2 separate regions of the Homo sapiens genome follow, and region 1 is linked to region 2. A link means that fine-mapping ties the variant in region 2 to the expression of a gene that starts in the linked region. Tissue or cell type: whole blood. Region 2 holds a variant in brackets; the other region holds the start of a gene. All regions are shown on one strand. Distances are between the middles of the regions.

Region 1 (2,500 bases), 130 kb after region 2:
ACCTCGCCGGGGCGTACACCCTTCGCCCCCGGCCCGGCAACCAGGAAGAGGCGGCTCGCCCGGGCGCAGAGCAGCCGGCTCCGGGTAACTCTTTCATCCTCCGACCTCGGCAGCAGCAGGGAGGGAGTTTCGTTCTCCTCAAACCAGCCCCTCACCCCCGGTTGCTTCCCACACCTCTCCGTTTCCCTGCTACCTCGCAGACAGACAGACAAGGGACACAAAGAAAAAAAGAAGAAGAAAAAAAAAAAAAAAAAAACTACCGCCCCTCCTGGTCCCATCCTCCAGCCCGGAGCCGGTAGGAAGAAGAGGGCGAAGCACACCTTCCCTTCTCCTCCCCATCCCGACGCGGTGACCCGGGTAGATCTGGGCAGCCAGGAGCTCTGGGCAGCCAGGAGCCCCGAAGAGGCCGAAGGCGGAGAGGTAGGGTTGGAAGAGGCAGAAATCAGGCGGAGCGAGCTAGAGCGCGAGAGAGAAGAAAATATCCAACAAAACCACGCTAACGCGCCCCCTACCTGGGTGCAACATACTTTGGAAATAGAAGATGACCAGGATAAAGGATCCCAAGCAAGTGGCCAGCACCATCCGGCAGATTCTGTTCATCCTCATCACTTCCAGCAGCGCTGGCTTCATGGCTTTGTCCTGGCTGCGGGGACCGGGGTGTCCGGGAAGCGCGCCCGGGGCGCAGGAGCAGGGACCCCGCCGCGCGGACCGGAGCCCGGGAGGCGCGGGGCAGAGCTGAGCAAGGCTCAGAGGGAGGATCGGAGTCGCTTCGCGGCCGCTCTCGGAGCCCCCAGCCCGGGCAGGGGTGTGGAAGGTGCCGGAGTTGGTCTGGAAGTGCTGAGATGCGTGGACCCGCTGGCTGCGCGCTCCTGCTCCTCCTCCTCGCCGCTCCGCCGCCTCCTCCGATCCCGCCGGCGGCCGCCGCTGCCTGGTCGCGGGCCGGGCGGCTGGGGTGCGAGCGGTGATGGTGGTGCCGCCGCCGCTGCCGCTGCGCTGGCCGCTGTGGCTGTCCGACGGGCCCTCTCCCTTCTCTCCAAAGGCTACTTCATTGCGCTCCAACGATCTATATATTCCGGGGCTGGGTTTTACCAAATGCAACTCGCGGCCCCCGGCGAGGGGAGGGCGCCTGCGGAGAGCCGGGAGGAGGGAGGGACCCTAGCGCCGGGGCGGAGCGTCGCGCTCCCCCCGCCCCTACCCGGGATATGGTCGCGTCCAGCTGTTGCCCGGGGAGTGCGGTGTGCGCGCCGCGCTCCCGCAGGGTCCCAAAAGCCCTCAGTCCCCGGCCGGGCTCGGCCGCCGTCTGGAGGTTGTGTCAGCGTTTCCATGACAAAACCCGGAGGAAAAAAAGACGAAGAAAATCGCCTCGGTGCTGCCACCCACCCCCGCCAGCGTTTGGAGAGGGAAGTGGCAAGCAGCGGGCTGGGTCTCGGAGGGAAGAATTAAGGGTTAGGGGGTTTCTGGTGGCTGGCAATTATTTAAAATCCCTGGGCGACGTAGCGGGGAAGTTGCCCCAAACCCCCAGGGAGCGAGTGCCCATTTTCCGACGCTCAGAACTGGGCGGTTTCGTTTTTCTTTCAAAGGACAGCCCAGCTTGGGAGTCGGGGTTAAAGAGGGCTGACTTAAAGTCAGGGTTAAGGAAACTGCACGACCCTCGGGTCAGGCGACAGCTGAGCTTTCCCGGGGACTTATACAGACAGAATCTCTGACACCCACCATCACCACCATTCCTCAAGGCAAAAGGGATCTGTGGGTTGCAAAACTCTGCTACCCCAAAGGGTAGAGCATCCTCCAAATTATTCAAAATTAACAGCAGTCTTAGCTGGGAGGGGGTGAGAAAATGCCCCTAGGAAGCCACCTCAACCAAGTCCAGAAAACTGCTGGAAAAGCCAAGCCAGCCATAGCACTGGCAGGTACATGGAAAGATGGTGCTGCTTTCTTGTATTGTGTAGAATGACTTCCAGTTTCCAATTCCATGCATTTAGGCTGTTTCACAATCAATAAAGTGGACACAGCCAATAGTGTAGGGATCACTCGTATGTCAGGGAAAAAAAAAATGTTAGTTAGACTAACCTTTGTGCCTTATCAAGTCATTACTAATTCAATTAAAAATGAAATAAGATACTGTGTCTTTCAATGCCTCTCACAAAATAGGCATTTGATAAATTCTTATTGAATCTGAATGTAATGGGCCTTATCCTCCCCTCGATAGACAGAGACACAACTTGCAGTTAGACACATGCAACAAAAACCACCTGGGCAACCTCAGTTCCCTTCCCCCAGAGTTCTCCTCCAGCAGTTGCATGGTGGGGAAAGTAACAAACTCAGCAGCCTTGCCTTTGATTACAGAAGACAATCAAAGCACAATATTTATGTAGCCGGTGTGCGCTGTATTAATTTGGACTTACCTGTGAATAAGTTGCTTGCTCAAGGAAGCCAGGCTGAACAAGCTTCAGACAGAGTCGTTCTCCAGTGATTCTTCTGCTCTGGTGATAGGAGATCA
Region 2 (2,760 bases):
CGTTATTCTGACATATTATTATTCTGAATAATATCCCATCATACATACCACTATTCATTCATCCACTGATGGGCATTAGGGTTGCTTCCACCTTCTGGCCACCGTGACTCATGCTGCTATGAACACGGGTGTTCAGGTATCTATGCAACTCCTGGCTGCGGTTTTGCTTTTTAAGCTGTTTTGCTGGGACGTGGAGCAACACCCTGAGGCGGAGCCCAGAGGCTGCTGGTGAGCAGGTTGGCTGGTGGCCTCCAAGTTGGTGCTGTAAGGATGGCAGGTGGGCAATGGAGCATGGCTGTCATGTACAGAACTTTAGAACAGTGACCTTAGGTCAAACATCACCGGGATGGACTTCAGTCAGCTCTCACTTAACTAAGTCTTAAAGCTGTTTGTGAGCCCGAGGCAGGCAAGGAAGGAATCAAGACATAAGGAAGCCACCTGGGTGGGTCTGGTCTTTGGCGGCAAGACATTGGAATGAGCCAGTCTGTGACTCAAGTCTGGGTCATAGGCTGCAGGAACCCACTCAGAGCAGAGCTCAGTTCTGAAGAAAGCAGCTTCAGCCTTCTGAGGCTGTAACCCGAAAAGTGGCTTGAGAAGGTGACCCCAATATTGTTTGAGATGCCAAAATTGTTTTCTTAAAAACCTAGGATGATTGCAAATGAAGTGCAAAAAATGTCCAGAACTGGTAAGTACATAGACACAGAAAGTAGACCAGCAATTGCCTAAGGCCAGGGGTGGGGATGGCAAGTGACAATAAATAGACACAGAGTTTCTTTCTAGGGTGATGGAAATGTTCTAAAATTAGACTGCGGGGATGCTGTACGGCTCTATAAATATGCTAAAATTCATTGAATTCTACACTTAAAGTGGGTGAATTTTACATGTAAATAGTATTTCAATAAAACTGTTTTTAAAATAAGTATAGAGATGTTTAAGAATCAACCCATAATATTAATATTTTCAAGATTTTGGCCTCTTTGAATAGATCTACATTGCAATACAATATGAAAGACTTAATTGAACAATTTATTTGATTTGAAATTTTAAGCTGAAATCTAAGTTTATATATAATACTAGAGCATTTTAAAAAACCTAATCTCCTCCAGCCCGGGTGACAGAGTGAGACTCCATCTCAAAAAAAAAAAACAAAAAACAAAAAACAAACTTAATCTCTA[A/G]CGAATTGAAGAGTCTGAAACAATAAATAAATAAATAAATAAATAAATAAATAAATAAATCTTAAGATTCACCATATTTCTAAGTTTGAGGCATTAGATTTCTATTATGTAAATACTTGAGCCGGGCAGGATGGTGAACACATGTAATCCCAGCACTTTGGAAGGCTAAGGCGGGTGGATTGCTTGAGCCCAGGTGTTCGAGACCTGCCTGGGCAACAGGACAAAACCCCATCTCTACAAAAAATACAAACACCACCAAGGTGTGGTGGTGCACGCCTGTAGTCCCAGCCACTGGGGAGGCTGAAGTGGGAGGACAGCTTGAGCCCAGGAGGTTGAGGCTGCAGTGAGCCATGATCCTGCCACTGCACTCTAGTCTGGGCAACCGCTTGAGACCCTATCTCAAAATAAATAAACAAATGAATAAATAAATGCTTGTTCATTAATTGGGCAAATGAAGTATTCAAAAATAACTGTAAATAGATGACATTTTAGATGCAATTTAAATTGTTATCAGAAGATTAAGTGTGTTAAAGGACCAAATATTAATTAAAGGCCACCCTAAATGTATCTGTTGAAGGCTTATGAATAGAAGAGTAAGATTCGAAATTTAAAGGTAGCTTCCTAGATTTGTGAGTTTAATTTTATTAGAAGCCTTTTCTGTATACCACTGTCATCACAGTGACATGAAAAAGACCTCACATTAACAGAGAAGATAACTGATAGGAATTGGCATCTTCAGGCTGGCCTAAGGGGCGGAGGGTGTGAGTGTCTGGGGTAAAGGAGAACCAGCCCCTACCCCAAACCTCAGCATAAATTGTCCCTGAAAACCCCCACAGTAGTAGAAGAACTTTATTGCTGAGAAACTTAAGACGCTGTGGAAAAAACGCAGTTCAAGGAATTGATATTGGCAGTTAACCTGGGGAAGTCCTCATAAATTACATTTTATGTTCACTTAAATAAAACAAGAGAGACAGCACTGCAACACAGATCATATTAATTACATTTTACACACTTCAAATGAGTAATTATAAGCCTTATACGTTTACTTTGCATTTATCCTTCCTTGCCTGCTGAAGAATGTTCCCCTCTCCCTGCAGTTTCCCTGGAATGCTTATACATTTATTTTGCAGTGAGGCAGAAAACATGCCGAAGTGCTTTCTTCCCTGCCTGGCGCTCCAAGTCTGATTTTACAACCTGGACACGCTGATGTCTGCCTCTGGGGTTCCCCCATGGCTTCAGAGACAGAGTAACGTAGCTGCTGGAGAAAGGAAATAGTCCAGGTAACCTTTATTTAAGCTACTCAAGCATGGCGGGGCATTAACTCCAAACCTGCCTCCTCCCCTTGAGTCCAGAAAGCTGTTTAGTTCTGCCCAGGATAATCTCACACTCACACAGTCTTCACACAGTCTGACTGTGCCCAGCAACCCCACCTCACTCAGGCAGGCATCTCGCCCAGGGCTCCAGTCCCTCCCGGCCACACAACCTTTTAAAAGCCCAAGGGATTTTCGCCCATTCTTTGTCCATCTCAAGAGCACCTGGGCAAACCCTGAGCCTACCCAGGCTTCTGCTTTCTTTCCCTTTTCTC

Evidence for each region. PIP is the estimated chance that this variant, and not a neighbour inherited with it, causes the effect.
Region 1: CHST11 starts here. The variant in region 2 is fine-mapped to the expression of CHST11 in whole blood (INTERVAL, PIP above 0.99).

What each region holds. Positions count from the first base shown.
Region 1 is chr12:104,455,542-104,458,041 of GRCh38, reverse strand. It overlaps CHST11 (carbohydrate sulfotransferase 11), which reads right to left and starts at 1,094. Exons shown (of 3, transcript NM_018413.6): 1 at 513-1,094. The coding sequence starts at 630. RefSeq lists enhancers at 306-355, 1,276-1,355, 1,376-1,425 and silencers at 506-785, 826-995, 1,076-1,205.
Region 2 is chr12:104,586,232-104,588,991 of GRCh38, reverse strand. The region is part of intron 1 of CHST11 (carbohydrate sulfotransferase 11); the gene reads right to left. Among named protein-coding and RNA genes, the nearest start is that of MIR3922, 4.0 kb to the left of the region's middle. The variant A/G (reference allele first, on the strand shown) is at 1,176.